2 separate regions of the Homo sapiens genome follow, and region 1 is linked to region 2. The links come from fine-mapping of genetic effects on gene expression. A gene starts in region 2. The other region holds a variant in brackets. All regions are shown on one strand. Distances are from middle to middle.

Region 1 (11,504 bases), 69 kb after region 2:
CCAGGATGGTCTCAATCTCCTGATCTCGTGATCTGCCCGCCTTGGCCTCCCAAAATGCTGGGATTACAGGTGTGAGCCACCACGCCCAGCCTTATTCTCTTTTTCTAATAGTTGCACTTTATCATATTTTACAAATGTGTGAGTCTGCTATGGATTAGAAATTAATAAGAGATTTTGCCACAGATAGTTTGAGAAGCCCAGCACTGCCACTCAACAAATGCTGGTGCATTCAGATGGTGAAATATTCTGCAGCTATTAAAGGAGTTAAAACTGCCTCCACTTACCTGGAGGCCCATCTGTGACACCTTTTTAGGTTAAAAGGAAAAGAAAAACTTGCTTAGGACTGAATATGAGCGGTTGCAATTTGTAACAATGATGTATATATACATATACATTTTCATGTATTTGTATGAACATAAAAGTATTGAAGGATATTCATCAAACTGCTAAAAGGGTTGCTTCAGAGTAACGGACTCGGAGAAGGCAGATTAATTTTCTCTTAATGGAACTCTGTATTGTATCACTTGTAAAAATAAGCATGTGTTATCTTTATGATAAAAAAGTAAAAACCTAAAAAAGAAAATTTTGATGTGTGTTAAAATTTTGGATTTCTAGGCTCCACCTTTTTTGAATGAGTCTCTCCAAGAGTGGGGCCCTCACATGTATAATGAGAAAAAGCTCCCCGATTACAGGATGTTACCAAGCCCCGCTAGGTGTAGGAACCCTGCTTGGTACCCACCCGAGCCTCAGCAGCTCCTCCCCATCATGGGCATGATGAGGTCTCCCTGTGAGGTGTTGTGAAGACGACGGGACAGGCTGCAGTAGGCACTGAATAAATGAGTCCCTTCCCCTGATGACCCTAAGGCTATGGGATCATCATCACTCCCTCCCCAAAGCCACACCTGATTATTCCAGCCAGCACTCGGCCTGCCCCTTTTCTGAATGCTTTTTGATTTTAACTTACATTTTTCGCATTTAAATGTTTCATTTAATTTGAGAAAGAGTCTCGCTCTGTCACCCAGGCTGGAGTGCAGTGGTGCGATCTCAGCTCACTGCAGTCTCCACCTCCTGGGTTCAAGCAATTCTCCTGCCTCAGCCTCCCAAGTAGCTGGGATTACAGGCGCCCACCACCACATGTGGCTAATTTTGTACTTTTAGTAGAGATGGGATTTTGCCATGTTGGCCGGGCTGGTCTCGAACTCCTGACCTCAAGTGATCCACCTGCCTCAGCCTCCCAAAGTGCTGGGATTAGAGGTGTGAACCACCACAGCTGCCTTCTTTTAATTTGTATTTTCTATCTCTGCGGACAAGACTTCAAAGGTGTCTATCACATACTTTCAGATCTACTGATCATCCTCTGAAAACCAACATCGGGGTTCACAAAATGGATTTAACCAATTGGGCTCCCCAGTTCTTCTTCCAGACTCCACCCCTCCAACAGTGTCTCCAATGACTTCCTGGCATCACTGAACAGGTCCTTCACTTTGCCACCTCTGAGCCTTTGCTTGAGTGTTTTCTTTCCCCTGGAATATCCTTTCCAACCCTATACACCGACTGAGTCAAACCTTCTGTCTTCTTTTTGAGCATTTATGAGCTCCTATCATGAGCCATGCATTATGTAAGGGACCTTACAAACACAATCAGTCTATGTAACAATCCTGCCAAGTATGCTTTATTTTGGGCATGGGGAAACAGAGGCTCAAGAGAAGTGACCTGCCCCAGGTTTCAGTGCCAGCACACTAGTAGAGCTGGGATTTGAACCCAGGTTTGTCTTTTGCACTGGATTCAGCTTCCTTGCAGACCGCAGCACCTCACATACAGCCCTTCACTGACCAGCAATTGGAGGGAAACCACCCCTGTGGCTTAAAACCTGTGGTGCCACAGATCATTCCACTCAGTCAAACCCCCAAGACCGTAGAAGTGCATTTAACACAGCAGCTCCTAGGCACAGGATTGTCACCTCAGGGCATATGACTTCTAAAGTTGCAGATTATAAACTTGTTCTCTTTCCCTGTCCTCAGGCTCCCGCTGAAGTAACCCAGACGCCAGGGATATCTCTGCCCGCTCCACTCTGACTCTAGTGCTCAATGTGCCTGCCAGGCCTTGCTAGGGATGCTGTGCCAGTGTGAAGAGGAAGGTGGTCTCCAGCTCTCACCCCATAGAAGCTTTCTGCCTCAGTTTCCCTAACCTGGAACACCACAATGACTCCTGAATTGAAAAACACTGCTTACAGCATCTAGGCTAAAATTGGCAGAATACCTGGGCTCCAAGCCAGGGAGATTTGGAGCGATGGGGAGGTGCAAGAGCACAGCCAGACAGAGCCAAAAGCAATAATATCCTGTTTGTTCCTACACTGCCCTCCGCATTAAAAAAACAACGACAGCTACATCAAGCCCTTTTGTTAAGTGGCCACAAGCTGTACATTTCTTGGTCCCAGGCAGGTATACTGGGAGTTCAGATCCTGGTCTTAATGCTCTTCTCTGGTTCTGTGACATCCTAGAATGTGAAGAGGAGGCCTTGGGTTCTGTCACTGCCTCCAGCCCGAGCCCCCTGCTCTTCCTGGGCATCCCGGATGGACCATGTCTGCCTTTCTGCTGACTCAGATTTATTTCTGGTCCAGCCATTCACAGCGTCCATGTGTCTGAACTCCTCAGCCAGAGGGCAGGTGGAAGGGCAGGAGGAGGACCACGTGTCAGCTTTCCATCCAGAGAGCCACCCCAAAACAGAGGATGTCCTTGGGCTTGGACCAGCTCCACAGAACACTCTGAACAAATTCTCACGATGCCAGGCTCCTAGGCCGCAGAAAATGCCTGTCTCCTCCCAGTTCTAAGATAGCAAAGGGTGTGCGTTACCTCAAAACCACTTAGTACGCAGCCAACCTTAATGGGCACTCTTGGCATTACTGTTCTACTCAGCAAATAGACAGTCCTAGGCAGGAAGGAGATATTTAGAATCCTACTCTGTAAAACAGAGGCCTTTCCTAGGCCTCCTGTGATGAAGGCATGGGACCGTTACCAGACTTTGTCCCTCAAGGGTAAATTGTTTTCAAGAAAACAGGAAGCTAGGAGCCATCTAGTCCTTTGAAGTGCTGTGAAGTGGGCTGCCTTCTTCCCCGCCCAAGGGAGGGAGTCTCTGAGGCTTCCTGGCAAGGGTTAGTGTGACCTCCAGCAGTCACCTTCAGCATGGGTTGCTGCTGGATTCCTGGCTCTGTGGGCAGGAGCTCCCAGAATGCTTGACACAGACTCTACGTGGCTTCCTTTGGGAAGACAAATGGAGCCTGCTGTAGGCTATGGCAGAGATGGAGGCCCAGGGCCTCTGAGCTAGGGGCAAAGTCAGTCTCCCTCCTGTGTCTGAAACCCCAGGACTCCCCATTCTGTATGGTACTCCCCCCGACCCAACCCACAGTTTCCTTAGGAAAACTGACCTGCCTATGGCCCATTTCCTAATGATATGATTTGGTCATGAGGCTGGCAGAGTCCATGGGGTGCATGTGGCACTCCTGTGCTTTGCTGTGACAGTGCCTTAACCCACAGGCGTGATTAACTCCAAAGTCTGGGGTCTTTGGAAAAGGTGCCTATCAATGCAGAGGAAGTGAAGTGCTCAGACCGCCAAACAAGGCCAAGAGCCTCCCGGAAGAGCCTGCCTGTCAGGAAGTCTCTGGCCACATGCTGTGGCCATGCTCGCCTCTATGAGAGGACAGAGAGAACAGACCAAGGACACGAGTTCAGAACAGAGAAAATGTGAGAGCCGTAGACAGGAAAAGCAGCCCTTCTGGAAACAGCACACTGGTGTACCTAGCGTAACCTTGTCCTGAGGGCCACTAACTGCCCCTCACTTGACTCAGCTGACACTGTGAGGGGTCACGAGCCTGGCAACACTTTCTGGAAGGTCTAAAGGGCAGCACTGAGGAGACCTAAAGGTTTTGGTCTGTTTGTCAAATGTCACTCTTCCTCACATTCGGAGGAGAGCATTTGAAGGCAGACCACTCTAGGGGCAAGAACAGGACTGATTTTAACCCCGGGACAACCAACCAAGCAAGCAAGCTAGTGAAGAACAGGCCTCTGCCCAGGTGAAACACGTGGGGCCAATTCCATAGGTTTTTTTTTTTTTTTTTTTTTTTTTAATTAACCTCCGGTGGGAAAGGTAAGGATGGTGGGGAGGGGAGACGGTTACTTGTCTCATTATCAATGTGTTAGTATTAGTGACGGCAAAACTGAATCTCTAGCAATACTATTTGCCCGTTTAAACTGGGCCTGGCTATTGGGCTTATGAGCAAATAGCTTCTCAAAATTTTAATTTTCTAGTTAGTTCATCCCAAGTCACTGATTTACATGTCTTTTGAGACTGAGACTGCTGGGGAAAAACATTCCCAGAAATGAGTGGATTAGACTCTGTGAATTACAAGGGAAAGACACTTTAAGTTTAAAGTTGTCCCAAACTTAGCGTCAAAATACAGCCTTTAGATTTTTTTTTCCATCGAGAAAAATTCCTGATTCACTACCAAAAAGAGGCCCTGCAGGCAGCGTGCTGATTTGTTCTGCTCCTGGTGCTGAGCTGCCCCCACCTGTGTGCAGGGAGGAGGGGTCGCTTCGGCCAAGGGCGGGAGCTCTGCTGGCTTTAGCGAGTCACCATTGCCTCCTCGCAGTCAGCGTCCTAACGGGGTCCCCGTCTACAGCCCGGCATCCACTCCTCCAAGGCCCTTCACACTGGCTCTAGCCATGACCCCTCTTTGGAGGAATAAAGCAGAGTTTCACGGACTCACCGACCTTGAAGCCGGAGCCTCCCACGTCCTGCTGAGCGCACACAGCCAAGAAGTGTATGCAGGGCGAGCTGGTCGGGCCGGCCTGGAAATCCTCCCTGGCGGGGCGGGGCCAGAGGACCTCACCAATCCCAGCGTAGACCTCCGGGCGCACCGGCCCCCACAGCTGTACCCTTGAAGGCAGGCCCGTGGGCGCTGGGCCCTTTATAGCACCTGCCCTTTCTCTGAAACGTAAAAGGCGGAGCCAGTCTTGCTTCCCAGGCCTGGTCCTGGAGGCTCCTTTGCCAGGGCTCTGGATCTCAGAATGGAAGGGCCAGCAGGTGAAATTGCACATCTGTTGGGGGATTTGTTTCTCTCTTCTCTCAGGTGTACCAGCCTTGGGGCCCTGGTGAGCTCTGGAGGATGAACCCCTCAAGCCAAGGTCGGAGAGGAGGATGTCTCAAGCTGCCTGGCTCCAGCAGCTGACCGGGCCCTGAGCCAGGGGCTGGAGGGACCTCCTTCCAGCGTCTTTGTCTGGGACCTGGATCCAGGGACAATTACAGTCAGGTTTCTGTTCAAGATCAGGCCCCCTGCAGTAGATGGCTAGATCATCTCGCTTTCTGTCCACACCAGCTTAACCCACGGCAGGCCATAGCCCTGCTTAAAAATAGCCCCGCTTGGGATATCCACCGCACGCCGGGAAGGCTGCCTGTAAATAGCAATGACCCAGCAGGATTTTGGACAGCAGCCCTGCCATTTCAAGGGAGCCTGCCTAGGCATCTGGTGACCGTCACGTACTCAGCTTCTGAGGCCACGTGGACATGACCAATTGGTTCCTGTCTCTTCCTTCTCAGAGCCCAGCTCATGCTCAGAGGACTTGATGGAGCAAGGGGTGGAGCCCCAGGAATAACCTTCTACCCAGTGTGGTTCTCCTTCATTCTCTGAAGGAGTTTCCATTTCTTTTAAACACGACCCATGTTTAAAAATATCATCTATTTTACCTTTGCATGGGGTACTGACAGGGAGAGCACGTGAGGGGGCCTTTTGGCGGGATGGGAAGTTTCCTGATTGGGGTGGTTATATAAAGAT[T/G]GGGACCAATCAAATTAATTTCATAATCCTTTAAGGAGTCAAGACCCACCAGCTTGCATATTCTATCATCAGGGCAGTCTCGGTTTATTCCTTCTCAAAATAGCTCTTTTCCACACACACTTGTTTCAAGTCAGTTCAGGCACCAACTGAAATAAATCCATTGACCCTGAAATAGCCCAGCTCCCAGATCCAGAAAATTATAAGGCTTTTAAAGAGCATGGAATTGTAGATTTAAAGAATGGCAGTTATAGCAAAAACCTCCTTTTCCTCCCCAATTGCCTAATCAACATTTAGGGCCCCCTCCACTCACCCGACCTCAACACCTTATATTTTATAGAGTAAATGTTTATGTTAGTAAGGTCAGAAGAAAAATTGGGTCATTGTTGAGAAAAGAGGGTACCACCCTTCTTTTGGGGGACTGGTCCTCTTCAAGCTTATTATAAAGGTGGTGTGATGGGGATGAAATCTCTACAAGGGACTCACAGTAGAAATTCTGGCTTTCTGGAAATCTTTCAAATGCCATCCCTGTCACATGGCATCTATTCCCTTCTCATCGTTACCAACTCCTTTTGAAGCTCTGGGGCTCTAGCCACACCAGGCTGCCCTGTGGCTGGCTTCTGCCATAAGGGCAGGAACAGAATTGAAGTGTGCGACTGCCATATCATTTGCTTTAAAGGAAAATGTCCTGGACTTATTCTCTTTTCTGTTCCTGAGTCCAGCAGGAGTGTGGCTAGAGCAGGCCCCAGATTTGACCTCGAAGGCAAGGATGACGCCTTGTGGGATGAGCAAGTAATAGGATGAAAGGAACCTGGGTTCCTCTGTCGCACCAGCCTGGATTGCTCATTTCAGAATTGGGCAGGAGGGACCCCTTTCCTTAGTCTATTCTTGTGTCCAGCAACTGTAACTTAATTCCATCAGCTCTAAATGTTGCCACAACTTCATAGAAGTTAAAGTATTTTCATATATAGTAATCCATATAACCACTGCAGTTATTTTAGGGGTAGACAGGAGTCTTATTTCAGAAGCCCCTCCTAGGTGGAGCCTGGTGACTATTAGGCCAGGACTCTACCCTGGCGGCTTCTCCTCTCTCCACCACCCATTCAGGAGCGTTGAGCTGCTGTGCAATGGACTGAGCTGTTCCAGGTAGTAGTGAGTTCTCTGTGCCTGGAGGTATCAAATATAGGCTGGGGATGTCACAGGAAGAATCTAAGCACTGCAAAGAAAGTGTGATTAGTTGATCCTTCGTATCATTTCAAAGCTTTCCCCAAATTCTTTGAATTTTAGGGCCTCTTCTAAACTGTTTTTCTCCCTGAACTTTAGAAGTAATATTTAGAAGTAAATAATATATCTGAAGGAGTTCACTGCTATGAAGAAGATGTAAAATAAAAATAAAGCCCCTAGGCCCCCAAGCAAAACAAAACAGACTCATTGTGGTAAAAAGAGACCCCAGGAAACATTAAAAACCAGATTCTACAGCTTTGGCAAGGCAAGAGGTCAGTCACACCCAACGCTCTCCCACCTCGATAACTGCCTCAAGACTTTCTTTCCTAAAATTAAACTAAAACCAGTTACTGAAAAACTATGTCTGGAAGATTTCTTCCTCAACTTCAACAGACAACCTGACGTGGCGAACCCCCCCTTCCCTCAACGCAGTTTCCCCCTGACAAGTGTTCAGCCTTACAAAGCACTCCATCCTCATAACTGACCACAGACCACAGCCGGTTCTGGCCGGTTTACAGAGATTGCACACCAAGCGTCTTTGTGCCCTGTGTTCCATCTTTTGACATATAGAGCCCAATTTTACTACATTTTAAGTCTCCATCCCAAAGTGAACATGGGTTGTATGTAACATGTAACATATATGATTACTGGCTATGCATGCATTAGGGCCTCTCATAAATATTCATAAGATTATCCTATAACCTACTAAATGTATATGTAAGGCTCATCTTGTTGGGCATAAATCTCAGCCTCTCCCTTTTTTATCTGAAGTGCTTGCTTTTGGCTTTGGCCAGAGGCTCCAGCCTGCAGATTGTAACCCTTTATAAGAAATTAAGTTCTATTTTTTCTAAATGTATACATTTCATGGTTTTAAGTTGACAATGTAGAAAAATGGGGGGAAAAAGAGTTAAATGAAGAAACCAGTGAGATTTCTGAATATTCAAGAAAGGTGAAGTTTAATTTGCATATAGGCATAACCTACACCTCACTTGGCAAGTGTTAGGCCACAGCACAAACCCCTCTGTCCAATCACAAATGTCCACAAATTTGCAAAGTAACTGGACACGAACGATATGCTTCTCAAACTCACACACATATTCGTCCATCACACACACACTCAAATGATAAAGAAATACATTGAAATCCTCTACAAAAGAGATCTGAGGACAGTAATCAGATGACCTCATGTGCGGACAGCACTTTGCAGTTTACAGTCTAATCCATTTGGTCCTCACAATAGCCCTGTGAGATAAGCAGCACAGGGATTACTATTCACACCGTTTTGCAGATGAGGAAACTGAGGCTCAGGGATGTGTAAACACCAGCCTAAGGTTTTCCAGTTGGAGACTGGGCCTAGGACTCAGGGCCGGGATGCCTAGGCCAGCTCTCTTTCATAACTGGCTTTCTAGTGAAAAATGAAATGAGCTGTGTAAAAACCAACATCATTAAGTATAATAGAACTATTATTTTCCTTGAGCAGATCAGACTAGTGCTATCAATCCTAATGTTAATGTCATGCTGCATGGCAGCTGAGATGAATAATTTTCTGAATCGTTCATGTGTTTATACCTACAACAAAATGACTGTTTTCCATTTTGGCTCTGCCTCATCTTAATTTTAAGTCACCAATGGCCGCTGAGAAATGACACACTGATTAGATTTCATTGACTTAAGTCTTCTATTACACGGTGGTATCTATAATGGAGCCATTAAACTTACAATCTGATTTCTTACTGAAATGAAAAAGAGTTTTATTTATTGATTCCCTCTGTGCACATTAGCCTGGCTATACCCTTCAGCCATAAATAGTATGTTCTCTTTTATGCCTTTTCGATAGTTGTAAAAATAATACATTTTGCAATTGGATTTTTAAAAACCTTTATACTTTAAAGTGAAGAGATTTTTTTTCAAGGGGATAAAATCAAACTTTGAAAAAAAAAAGCTAAGTAAAATCTCTTGCTTTTAAATAAAAGTTAATTTTATTGGGAATAATCCCTGTATTGCATTACTCTTTTCAGTTAAGAATTTAAAAGCTGCCCAATCGCTGCTGGCCCAAAAGTCTCGTCTTATACAATAACATGAGAGAAAGGGTGCTGATCCATCATTATTCACTCCACATGGGACCATAATGGATTTTTCTCTTCCAGGTGATTCAGTTTCTCTGAGTTTCATTTGTTTATAAGTAGTACTTTAAGACGTACTGAAATTTAACAAACAGTAATGGGACTTGGTATGAGAGCCACTTGAAAATATTGCAATGGCCGTTTAAAATTCCGTCTTTAAATTCCTTCAGAAAAGCACTAAGGAAAAGTGACGACGTTTTACTTCATGCCTGAATCTGTCAAATAATATATTGGATTAGGTAAGAGATTTGTCCCTGTAGCAAAACTAGATGTCTCAGTTAATAACGAAAAGGCATCCCCTAAAAGCTCCAAGATAATTTCGTTGACAGTACAAAATGTGGGCATTCATTCGAAAGCATGAAATTGGATTTTTCTTCTGATTTTCTAGGTTAATTTTACAGTATACATGTTCGCTACTTGGCTGTTAGAGGTTGACCTCCCATCTCCTCTTAGAAATGGGTCTCCATAATGGACTAGAGGCAGATGCAGCTGGGAATGCATGCTTTGTGTGTAGGCAGAAGAGGATGGGTACTTTAACGACCAGAAAAAACACTGCAAATTGCTCTTGGGGATTTTTAATTTGACCAAATTGAAGGGATTTTAAAATGTGCATTCCTCTCCCAGCTGGCACACGAATAGTGCAGGTCATCAACAGACACTCCCTCAGAGGTGGAGCTCTCTCTCTTGCCCTCTTGCAGCTCCAGGAAGGCTGCAGACTCCAGAAAGTGGTGTAATTCTCAAACAAAAATGCGAAAGGCTAGTGAGTGGCACACCCCTGCAGTCCCAGCTGCTTGAGAGGCTGAGGCAGGAAGATTGCTTGAGTCCAGGAGTTCGAGACCAGCCTGGGCAACATGGTGAGACCCTGTTTTTCAAACAAACAAAAACCCCCTAAAAGTCAGCATAGCAATTGACAGTGCCTAATATGACCAGTGCGGGGCAGTTCCAACATCCTGCAGGAAATAGGCGCAAAAGCTTTGTCACTAGTTGAAGAAAAGCTGCGATCCAAAAGGGAAGGAGCATTTGGAAACTCCTGTCTTATTTTTTGTTAATAAGAATGGCTGCAGTGTCTCTGGAACATTTGGGTCAAAGAAATGAGTCCGAACTTCCAGAAAAAGTGCACACAGAACCATCCCTTTCCCTCTGAAGGACTCTGGCAACTCCAAGGCAGAGTAGAATGCATGCACCTTTCCACGTGTTGTTTGGCCCGAAACTAGTATGTGTGTGGTCCTCTCACAGATTTGTCCCGGTTTTAGTTCACCCTTCAGGACTATGCTTTTGAGCCATGAAAGCTAACCTTTACTTTTCTTCTGCAAGACCTTGAGGTGTTTGGTGCAACTGATACATATTATTTCAAACCCTCAGTTTCTGGAGCACTGAGAAATAAATCACAAGTTATGCGTTGTTAGGATCCAAACAGCCCATGCTTCTCATCATGCATCAAGATGCGTCAACCTCTTATTTGAAACTAAAGAGAACAAACAAGCAACTTTAAAAAAGAAAAAGAAAGCATCCATAAGGAACCCTCCTTGGGTTGAGTGCTACACTGTTGGCTAATATGAACTATTGAAAATATTTTGGGAATGGTCTTCAAATATTATATTTTCTTTTACTTAGTTGATATTTCACTATATAGTTACATACAGAGATGGCACTTACCGTGCAGAAAGTGTACATTCTCTACCTCTATGGTGCATTACCAATGCTAGCTCTTTCACTGAGTCTTAAGAGCCAGCAGGTGGAATTTATTAGTCTGTTAGCTCTAGCAACATAATTAAAGTGCAAGGAAAGAGGGAAAGCAGCCAGACAGATCCATTTTTCATTGTCAGCATCAATAAGTTTCATGCTGCTAAGAGAAAATGTCAGGTGCAACAGGTTCAGGGAAATAGAACTATATTTTTTCTCTTCCTTCTTTTAAAGCAGCAGTCTCCCTGAGAAGAGAAGAGGGAGGTAAACAATGAGATAGCCCTATTTCTTCAACAACTGACAATCTTGGGAAAAGGAAGGTCACTTCCCCAGCCTCAGGTAGCAGGACTAACCCTTGCATTTGGTTTTGTAATGTAAGAGCTGTTCGGTGGTTGGGCCCATTTCCCATGCACTTATAATATTCTCAGAGATCTCTCAACATCAGTTTTTAAAGAAAGAGATCTACGAACAGCATATGGAAGTGTGGGTTTTGAAAAGAAAATTTCACTAAACTGTTTAAAAAAAATACAGCCAATGTTCATAGTAAGCCTAAAAAAAGGTCTGTGTAAATGAGAATAGATTCCTGCAGTACTATGAGTGGGGAAAGAAAACAAACAAAGCAAGGTGCAGAGATGATTTTTAGGTATAGA
Region 2 (11,504 bases):
AAAGGAATAATTTATTCCAAGATGAATTATTTGGCTCCAACATAAAACTGAGCAATGGTTAGTTGTTTACAGAAATTTGAAGAATTTTTTTGCTGCAATAAATGAGAACATCAACCATAATCAAAGATGGCAGATATTTAAACTATTTTATTTAAACTGGAAAAAGATATACATATTTCTTGGATAATAAATAGTCATTTAATTATGTTTTTTCAAAATAAGCACAGGTTTTTTTAAAAAGCAAATTCAACCAGCAAAATAAAACATTTATTTTGCAACTGTCCTTTTTTTCCTACTTAATAAAATATTGAAAAAGAATGAGTCCCTTTAAATTCTTCAGTAACTTGTACATTTAGAATGAGCTGGTCCAAAAAAAAGAAGCTGTATTTATTATACAAATGCAGGAAAAGCTACTGCTAAAACCTGCATCACCACCATAAGAAGTCTTGGCTTCTTGGTGAAGTCAAGGTGGTCTCTACTAAGCTGAGACTACTGCCTTAGTTCACTGCCTTCTCTTTTAAAACCTAATCATCACCTAATACAACATTTTTGAATGGTCCTTAAGTTTAATGTAGATGGGATTGTGAAGCACTGATTGTAAATTTCTATAGCATATCATTTTATTAGCATTTAAGGACCGATGCTTAGTATAAGGTATTAAAAAAATACCAAGGAAGTAAATTTAACAACAGGTCATAACAAGCCATATACTATTTATATAGCACTCCCCTTTTTAAAAAACAATATCCTTCCCCACTTAATTACAAACATAATGCTTTTCTTAAGCGGTCATAACAGTAAATGTTTTCAAATGGTATGTGATTCACCATACCGCCTATGTCAACTAAACTAAAATGACTTAAAATATTTAAAAATCGTTAACTTACACAAAACTCTATCCTGATACCAACAGAAATGTTATCCTTTCTATTCAAATTTATCCATAAGGAATGTTTCATCAGTATTATCTCTAAATAACTATCTTTAAATATAACAATGCATAGACTAATCTTGCAAACAGCCAAAAGACACATTTATAGAGGCTGTTAACATTTTAAGCCTGCAATGGTGCAAACAGTGCTCTACATATAGTAATACTAATAAAAAATAAAAGTATAATAACTAGCAACAAGTCCTCATTCTTATGAAGTGGTGTACTAGGAGGCTTGGGAAACTCACTTAGAGAAGGGAAATAATTATACCAAGTATTTCATCCCCTTTGCCTGACATACTTTAAAATCTAGGGCTAGGCATTAGAGAAAGAAACCTGCTGCCCCCAGCATTCTTCTGAATGTAATATGGGGGAGGGAGGAAGCAATGACTAGGGAGTCTCAAGGACTTTCAATTCTGCTATTACTCTGCTCTAACTAGTATGACTCCTATGTATCTCTTTCCTGTGCTTCAGTATTTCATAGATAAAGAACATCCTTTCCAAGTAATAGGGACCCACACACATTTAACCTGTTCTACTTCATCTTCTTCATAATTTTGACATTTTCTCAATGCTAATTTGAAAAAGGGGCTATTGGAAGGTGAGGATAGGTTTTGGTTTTTTTGGAGGACGAACTCTCGTTTTGTCACCCAGACTGAAATGCAGCGGTTGATCACATGGTTCACTGTAGCCTCGACCTCCCAGGCCCAATCCTCCTGCCTCAGCTGGCAGTAGTAGCTGGGATCACAGGTGTGTACCACCACACCTGGCTAATTTTTTTTTTTTTTTTTGGTAGACATGGCGTCTCCCTATGTGGCCCTGGCTCGTCTTTAATTCCTGGGCTCAAGTGATCCTCCCGCCTCAGCTTCCTAAAGTGCTGGGATCACGGGCATGGGCCACCACATCTGGTCTATAACGTAGGTTTTGAAGTCAGGCTGGGTTTGAATGTCACCTCTGCTACTAGCTAAGTGGCTTCCACAGGTTATTTAATCTATCTGCACTTCAGTGTTTGCCATCCATAATATGGGAATATATGCCATCACCTTTGCTGTGTTGTTGTAATAATTAACCAGTACATCATGTGCCTAGCATATATGTGCTAAAAAAGTACTAGTCCTTAAAACGATGCTCTATAAATCTGGGACATAATGGTAACCAGAGCTGGCTAAGGTATATATGTGTGTGAATATAAGAATAGTTTCCAGCTAAATAAAGTAAATAACATGGTAGAAGTGATGCTCTCACCATTGCATTTTTCTTTGCCGCTTGTCTTTTTAATCTTCTTCCTTCCCGTCGACTGTCTTTCTTTAAAGCAACTGCAATTTCTTCCCTTACTTCCTCACTGTCTGTTGCTATAATTTGCCCATTGTGAACCATCTGTGAATTCTGTCTTAGGTATTCCATGAATCCATTCACATCTTCATTTAAGTACTCTTTTTTCTTTTTGTTCTTTTTATGTTTTGCTTGGGGTGCATCATTTTTGAGGGATAGCCTATTGGCTTCAAGTTGTTTACGCTTTGGTAGGTTTTGGCTTGTTCCCTCAAAGGATCCCTTCTTCATGTCCTCCCATGATGTTGCAGGCAAGGGTCTCTTGTTATATGTGGTACTAACTCGGGCCCACCTGGTCATAATTTCATCAGTGGTACCTTATCAATTTTTAAGACAAGCATGGGTGGTTAGCCATCAACAACAAAAACAACAAAACTAAAGAGACATGCTATATCACTATATGTCACATATGCCCATATGTTAAACTTTTAATTATTAAAACACTTTTTATTTCAGTTAGATATCTGTATACATATTTAATGCTATAATATGCTGCATAGACATGCTTCTAACATAAATCTACCACTTACCAGAAAAGCTGCCACACCAGTTAAAAAAGGTGTGCTTAAAATTGAAAAACTATCTTAAGAAACCAAATTATTTCATAAAATATAAATCAGATAGTAATACAATGAATGCAATTATTCCTCCCACATTCTGCAGTTTTCCCGGCTGTTTATTTTCCTATCTCCAAGTCCCACAGCTACTTTCTCCCAATCTTCTTGCTTCGTCTGCCATTTCAATGCAACAATTTGCATAGCAGATTACTAAGTATACAGAAATCATGTCCTTTAATATGAAGTTTGTTGAAATTTCCTGGCAAAGTTATAAGTAAAACATATAAAAGTGTTTACCATCACAGGATGATCCCGGGCTTCCTCTTACTAATCAAGGTATAAGCTACTTCCAGCCCAGTGATTTCACATCATCTTCAATTCTATTTAAATTATGACTTGAATCATAAGATATATTTCACACCAAAATCTGTATCTTGTTTTTATACTCTTAATACATATGCTTTAATATTCAGAAATAACTTTTCATTTTAGAGCACATACATAAAGAAGTAATTTATCCTAACACTAATGATTTGGCTCCAACATAAAATGGAAAAAAGTTTTGGTCACTTACATACTACCTAGTGATTTGGAGGATATTTTTTTCCTGCAATGAATGAGAACATTCAGCCATAATCAAAGATTCATCAGCTAGTCACATGCTACATAACATTTAGGTCAACAGCGACTGCACACATGATACTGGTCTCAGATGATTATAATGGAGCTGAAAAATTCCTATTGACTTTGTAGCCCTCATAACTTGTAGTGTAACACATTACTCATGTCTGTGGTAATGCTGGTGTAAACAAACCTGGGATGCCAGTCATATACAAGCATAATGCTTACAATGATGTACTGTACATAATACTAGACAATTATAAGTATTCCAGAAAAAAGCAGTTATTATAGGAGATGACAGCTCCATTCATGTTACTGCCCCTGAAAACCTTCCAGTAGGACAAGATGTGGAGGAAGAAAAGAGTGATATTGATGCTCCTGACCCGGTGTAGGCACAATGTGTGTGTCTTAGTTTATAACAACAAAAAAAATTTTTACAGGAAAAAGCTATAGAATAATGTAAGGGAATAAAGAAAATATTTTTATATAGCTATACAACACATTAGCATTTTAAGCTAAGTGTTATTACAAAAGAGTGGGCCGGGTATGGTGGCTCACGCCTGTAATCCCAGCACTTTGGGAGGCCAAGGCCAGGTGGATCACAAGGTCAGGATATCGAGACCATCCTGGCCAACATGGTCAAACCCCATCTCTACTAAAAATACAAAAATTAGCTGGGCGTGGTGGCGCACTCTTGTAGTCCCAGCTACAGGCGCGCACCACCTGGGAAGCTGAGGCAGGAGAATCGCTTGAACTCAAGAGGTGGACGTTGCAGTGAGCTGAGATTGCGCCACTGCACTCCAGCCTGGGTGACAAGAGCAAAACTCTGTCTCAAAAATGAGAGACAGAGAGAATAAACTCCGTCTCAAAAAAAAAAAAAAAAGGTCAAGGAGTTAAAATTAATTTAAAAGTTTATAAAGTTAAAAAAGCACAGTAAGCTAAGGTTATTACCTTATTTTTAATAAACTTAGACTAAGCATACCGCATTTATAAAGTCTACAGTAGTGTACAGTAATACCCTAAATAATATCGTAGGCCTTCACACTCACATACCACTCACTGACTCACTTAATAGCTACCGACAGCCCTGCAAGCTCCATGCGTAAGTGCCCTATTCAGCTGTACCATGTTTTCTTTTACACTATATTTTTACAGTATCTTTTCTGTGTTTAGATACACACCATCCTTTTACAACTGCCTACAGTATTTAGTAGTTATACTGTACAGGTCTGTAGACTAGGAGTAACAGGCTATCCCATACGGCCCAGCTGTGTAGGTTTGTGCAAGTACACTATGATGTTCACACAACCACGAAACGGCCCAACCATTTCTCATAACTATACCAGTTCTTAAGGGGAGCATGGCTGTATTAAGCCACCACCTTTTTTGTTGTTGTTGTGGTCGTTGTTGAGACGGAGTCTCACTCTGTAGCCCAACCTGGAGTGCAGTGGGCGATCTTGGCTCACTGCAACCTCTGCCGCCAGGGCTCAAGCGATTCTCGGGCCTCAGCCTCCCGAATAGCTGGGATTACAGGCGCGTGCCACCACGCCCAGCTAATTTTTTGTATTTTAGTAGAGAAGGGGTTTCACCATGTTGCCCAGGGTGGTCTCGAACTCCTGAGCTCAGGAGATCTGCCCGCCTCGACCTCCCAAAGTGCTGGGATTACAGGCGTGAGCCACCGCGCCCGGCCTAAATTATCACCTTTTAAGACCAGCATCCCTGGCAACCCCCCAAGTCTCAGCTCCTAGTAACAGAAAGACCCCTTCCACAGAAGCTGAAGGGTGGACCCAATGAATTGGTGTGAGAAACTCCATGCCACTTTACCAGCGCACTCTTCGCTGAAGTTTATGCGACTGTCATAGTGGGGACCGAAGCTGTTCAAAAGGAAGTAGATTATCCTTCCCCTACGTACGTGGGAAGGGGGAGGCTCTGGGTTATCAAGAGGGTGAAGTGGGAGAGCCAAGCGGCCCACCCACAGGCGGATTCCAGGGCGGCTGGACGCACAGCCCCCAGCAGCCGGAGCCCAACAGCTGAGGTCGCCGCCCCTAGACAGCCCGCGCTCCAGCCAGCTCAGGGACCCAGCGGCTAAGCCTTCTGTCCTCCCAGCTTCCCACGCAAGTTCCGCCAGGCCAGAGGGAACGAACGACGAGACCCTGCAGCTTTGGTGGCTGAGAACCTCACCTCACCGCGCTACCGCGCAGCTTCTTACCGCGCACGAATCCCCCAGAGCAGCCGAGTTGGCGAGCCGGGGAAGACCGCCCTCCTGCGGTATTGGAGACCGGAAGCACATAGTGCCCGAGAGCGCGTCACTTCCGGCGTCACAGACGGTCTTTACAAGCGACTCGTGGGCGTCAATACTGGGCTGAGTTTGTGGCGCGCTTAGTGATGGGATGGCCCTGTGCAGGACGCCGACACGAAAAGATGAAGAGTTCAATCCGTGCTGTCTGAACTCACAGTGTAGCAGGCGAGATAGACGGGAAGATCGGTAGGGTGGGAGATGCCGGAAAGGCTTCCCGTGAGACTGGATAAGAAATCAAAAATCTGGTGAAATTGCCGGCAAGAGGGAGTTAAGGACATTCCAGGCAGAGGCAAGGTAAAGGCGCGGTGGGAGTGGGTCACTGTGATAAAAGTCTGAAAAGGACATTTGGGGGCTCTCTTGGGTGAGAGGCAGTGCCTCATGTCCCCCCTTCAGTGCTCGTTGAGCATTCAATTAAAATGTTAACACTTTGTAGCCAAACAAGTTCTCTTTTTAAGAGGAAAACCCTGGATTTCCAAACGGCTCATTTTCTGTAGCTTCTTGCAAATGGATACCACCACCAGCTGTGCCTAGTGAAAAAATGCAATTTACCAGGACCACTACTCTCAACAGTTTGCTCAATCCATTTAACCTTTTGAATATTTGTCCACTTCTTTTTATCTCTGTTGGCACCTCCTCCCTTGTCCCATATTGTACCTGTAGTTCTACAACTGGTCTGGGGATTCATTCTGCCCCAACTCCCTGAAATCCATTTTCCGTGTCGTAGGAACGGAACTTTTGAAAATGTAAATCATTACATTTAAAGCAGTACTGCTGTACTGCTTTAAACTCTCCCTTCGCTTCCCATTGTTTTAGGATGAAATTCGAACTCCTTATGAAGTCCCTGCCTACTTCCCTAGCCTCACCTTGCTCAGTCTCTCCTTTGAGCTCCGTGCATAGGATCATTTTTTCAATTTCTCAAATGCCGTGTGTACCTTGCCATCTCCAGGCCTTTACATTTGCTAGTCTCTTTGTATGGTACTCCTTTTCTTCTTCCAGTTACTTTCTACTCACCCTTCAAGGCTTTAAGTATTTTATTCTCAAGAAAGCCTTCCAGCCCCCTACCCCCATACTAGACCAATCCCCTACTGTGTGCTCACGGCAGTCTATACTTTCTTATGACACGGTTCACATTTGTAATTACACAATAATTGTGTAAGTTTATTGTATCCTCATTGCCTGGTACATCCTTGGTGCTCACTGCGTATTTGTTTTTTTGTTTTGTTTTGTTTTGTTTTTTGAGAAGGAGTTTGGCTCTTGTCGCCCAGGCTGGAGTGCAATGGCGCGATCTCGGCTCACTGCAACCTCTGCGTCCCGGGTTCAAGCGATTCTTCTGCCTCAGCCGCCCAAGTAGCTGAGATTACAGGCGCCCGCCACCGCGCCCGGCTAGATTTTGTATTTTTAGTAGTGATGGGATATCGCCATGTTGGCCAGGTTGGTCTCAAACTCCTGAGTTAGGCGATCCGCCCACCTCTTCCCTCCAAAGTGCTGGGATTACAGGCGTGAGCCACCGCGCCTGGCCCTCGTATTTGTTAAGTAAATGAAGAATAAGTACTTTGCGATGTTTGTTTAAAGCAAACTAGAAAGTGGCCCAGTTTTCTTTAAGAGAAGGGATTTTAAAGTCAGTGCTTGTAGGAATGTTGAGATTTGGTATGGTACATATCACAAATACCGTAGTTCATATGGTGGAGAAAGTTTTAAAAGACAACAAACAAACAACAGCAACTTCCAGCTCTTGAAGATAGGGAACTTCCTAAAAGATGTGTGGTAGTGCTGCCCATACTGTAATGATCTCAACCAGCTGGTTTCAGGGTAGTGACATTTCATGAAGAGGTTTTATCTTTGGTAGATGCAAGGTACTTACACATAACATACCACTAGAGGGCGCATTTAACTAAAACTTTTCTTTTTAGTGGTATATTGCATTTTAAACTGTAGGTCGTTCATTCTTGGAAGCAAAGGAACATACCGATTTCTTTTTGTAGCGGTATGTCCAATAAAGATTAGTAGTTGAGCAAATAGGGCGTAGAATAAGTCCTTTGGAATTCGGAGGAAACTATTGCTACTAATAGCTAACTTTACTGAACATTTTATAGGTGCCAGCAGTATGCTTAATGGTTTGCATTCGTTACCTAATTAGTCCACTCAGTATTCTGTGAGGTTGGTACTATTATTTTCTCCATTTTGCAATGAGGGAATAAATTCACAGAGCTGACGTAACTTATCCAAGGTCAGACAGCTAATAAGAGGTAGAGTCAGGATTTGAACCAAGATCTCAATCCAAACCTGTGTGCTCTGCTACTTTGAAATACTGCAGAGGATTGTTTGTCTACTTGATCCACTTTAAAACACTTTACTAAGTTATCCTTGCCCAAATTCGATTTTTTTTTTTTGGAAAGTATTTACTTTTACAGTTCAAGGGATTATGTTTGTATTCAGTTTTCCCATCTACTTATTGAAATACTGTAAATGTATTTTTTATAACAATATTATCAGGAAGGTAAATGTTAAATAAGGAATTCTGGTCGTCTTCTCAATTTTCCTGCTGCTGTTTCTTTTCCAGTCCTCAAATTGCTGATTTATAGCTTGATTCACTGGCAGAGACAGTGGAGTGTGCTTATTCCATATTACCAGGAATTGAAACCACTACCATTAGAATTTTAAATCTTCATTCTTGCCCAGATTCTCTCTGAATATTAGGCGCTTGGCCACCCTAGATGAAGTGACCAATAGGTGATGAGGACTAGAAGTGTCCAAGGCCCAGCCTGGGTGGACCATCCCTCTAACTGACTCACACATTAGAGTGAACAGCCTCCAGGCAGCCAGTTTACCTATAGAGCAATTTGGAACGGAGAACAGTGAATCTGGAAAGGAAGGCTGGGATGAGATTTTGCCAAATTAAAGTGTTTTTAAATGTGAAATTATAGTGTTCAAACTTTATCCATTAGAGCTTAAGCAATGAACAACTGTGGATAGTGTTTTAGATCATACAGGAGATCCCATAAAATAGATCTGGAGAAGAGGATTGTGTGGAAAACTGTACCTAATGCATTCTCCGGGCAGTTATTGAACTTTTTTATAGTATGCAGAAAAATACAGCAGAAGAGAGAGGAAAAAAATTAATGACCCTGCTGTTGGAAATAAAAATAAGATCCAGACCAGTGACATTCTGACATCTTAAAAACCTGTCAGTGATATTTTTAGCTGCTTTAGGATCCTTACAATAAGGCCCATGAGTAATAGGATTGTGAGGGTTTTTTTCTTTATACATAATTTTACAGATATTCTTTAATGGGTGTGTATTACATTTAGAATCATTATTAAAGAGTTATTTTTAATCCATGGGAGTTTTGACACAGCACATGAGAATTTCTAATTATAGACTCATAGAAATACATACCTCTTAAAACCCTATCTTCTTGTTTTACAGATCAATAAATTAAGTTTCAGAGAAGTTAAGTGATTGCCATAGAACACAATGCTAGTGACTGAATTTTGTTAACTAACATGCTTTCATTTGCATTGTTGGTTTTCTCAGTAACAAAATTACAAGCAATACTGCTTTATTTCAGAAGTGAAAGAAAATCTATTGGAAGTGTGGAGCAAGAGAAACCTATTAGTGGAAGTTACTTGAGGTTCCTAGGCAATAAGGAATAGGAATAATATAAAGTTTGTGTTACCCTCTGAAAAAGCTTGAATCTCTTTCATCTTCTTTGCTTAAACGTGATAAAGAATAGTGTTGGAACACTAATCACAAAAATGATGTATCCTTCTGACTCATCTTACCATCTTGTTGTATTTCTCAAATTTGAGTTCCTAATCATGTGTTTCGGTGGTTAGGATGTTAAGTGCTTCAAATGAATACTTAAACCTAAATTACAAACAAGTGGCAAGATTTGCAAGCTCTCCTTTATTCTCTGAAATGCGTACTTCCTCCTCCTTATGTCTGAGGAAATCATACCAGATACGGGCCTTAGACTGTCCATTCCAAGGAACAATGAGAGGTCTTGCAGTTACAAATGGAATTCTGTAAAATAGGATAGGTGAGGAAAAAGCACTTTTTGATGTCTACTATTTGCCAGTACCTTAAGTGCTAAATATATACAAATGACAGAGAGGTCCCTGCCCTTAAGCAGCCAAGAGCCTGTGAGAGTAAGACAGATTGCTAAACCACTAATAAGCTGATGTTATAATTAGTGAGGGAATTATGGTGATATAGAGATTACAGATAAAATATTTCTTCCTGGGAAGTTTTAAGAAAAACTTCACAGTAGAATGTGTTGCAGACAACTGGAGAGAGGGATCAGGGAGGTGAGGAGGAGGAGTCAGTAAAAAATAAATACATGTACTCGATCTAAAATCCTCTCCAATAAGCTGAAATGCTTTTGCAGATAAGACTGACACACGCTGACATATACACAAAAAAGAGATAAAAATTTATGCTAGTACTTCATAAAAGGTCAAAGTGAACATAACCAAGTGGCAAAAATATTTCGTACTGATTTAGTAACTACTATATAAAATAATCTACCAGTAAGTCTGGGTAAAAACAGTACAGTAATTAATGATTTCAGATGAACTAATTTAAGAGGACCACATACGAGGAAAAACATAACCTGCCCAAAACTATGGCATAGCAAATAAATGATCATAGGAAAAGAGGTCCCACAAATATTTAAGAAACATTTATGGACCAAGAAGATGTAGAAAGTCACATTTACATATATTCCGGAAGATGTGAGAGTCTAATGGTGAGCTCTATGAAGATGAATTGGACACAGTTCATACCCCCAGAGGAATCTGGTAAAGAAGACAAACAGGGCCAGGCGCGGTGGCTCACTTCTTTAATCCCAGCACTTTGGGAGGACGAGGCAGGCGGATCACCTGAGGTCAGGAGTTCGAGACCAGCCTGGACAACATGATGAAACCTCGTCTCTAGTAAAAATACAAAAAAAAAAAAAAAAAAAAAAGCCAAGCGTGGAGGCAGGCACCTGTAATCCCAGCTACTCAGGAGGCTGAGGCAGGAGAATCGCTTGAATCTCGGAGGCAGAGGTTGCAGTGAGCTGAGATCGCTCCATTGCACTCTAGCCTGGGTGACAAGAATGAAACTTTGTCTCAAAAAAAAAAAAACAGATTTTAAATTCCTCAAGGAGCAAATGAAGGAAGGCACTTGTGTAGTTTTGCCCAGGGAAGCTTTATATGGAAGTCACCAGCAAGTTTTCAGAGAGGAAGATTAGCTACACTGAGTGTATGTGGCTTTTAGATCTCTAAACAGTATGTCTTGGAGAAGTACAGCAAACCAGATAGAGATATATATATATAATAGATACATATAATTATATATCTATTATATATAACCAATATTATATATAATAATATAGATATATTAATCTATTATATATAGTATATATAAGATATATACTATATATTATAGATATATCTATTATCTTATATATACTATACATAATTAAATATATATTAGATATATAATATATATCTAATATATAATAGATATATATCTATTATATATAATGTATAATATATAATATGTAGATATATCTATTATATATAATATATATTATATGTAGATATATCTATTATATATAATATGTAGATATATCTATTATATATAATATATAATATATGTAGATATATCTATTATATAATATATAATATATATTATATGTAGATATATCTATTAAATATAATATATAATAGATATAGATATATAATAGATATATCTATAATATGTAATAGATATATCTATCAT

What was found. PIP is the estimated chance that this variant, and not a neighbour inherited with it, causes the effect.
Region 1: its variant is fine-mapped to the expression of CKMT2-AS1 in minor salivary gland (GTEx, PIP 0.92).

Annotation. Positions count from the first base shown.
Region 1 is chr5:81,226,640-81,238,143 of GRCh38, reverse strand. RASGRF2 (Ras protein specific guanine nucleotide releasing factor 2) reads right to left here. Exons shown (of 27, transcript NM_006909.3): 27 at 7,982-11,504. It overlaps CKMT2 (creatine kinase, mitochondrial 2), which reads right to left and starts at 4,822. Exons shown (of 10, transcript NM_001099735.2): 1 at 4,767-4,822. It overlaps CKMT2-AS1 (CKMT2 antisense RNA 1), which reads left to right. Exons shown (of 2, transcript NR_034123.1): 2 at 1-579. The variant T/G (reference allele first, on the strand shown) is at 5,828.
Region 2 is chr5:81,295,814-81,307,317 of GRCh38, reverse strand. It overlaps CKMT2-AS1 (CKMT2 antisense RNA 1), which reads left to right and starts at 5,749. Exons shown (of 2, transcript NR_034123.1): 1 at 5,749-6,031. It overlaps ZCCHC9 (zinc finger CCHC-type containing 9), which reads right to left and starts at 5,731. Exons shown (of 6, transcript NM_001131035.2): 1 at 5,620-5,731; 2 at 2,177-2,577. The coding sequence starts at 2,560. RefSeq lists enhancers at 4,423-5,212, 5,220-5,399, 5,550-5,649, 5,213-6,002.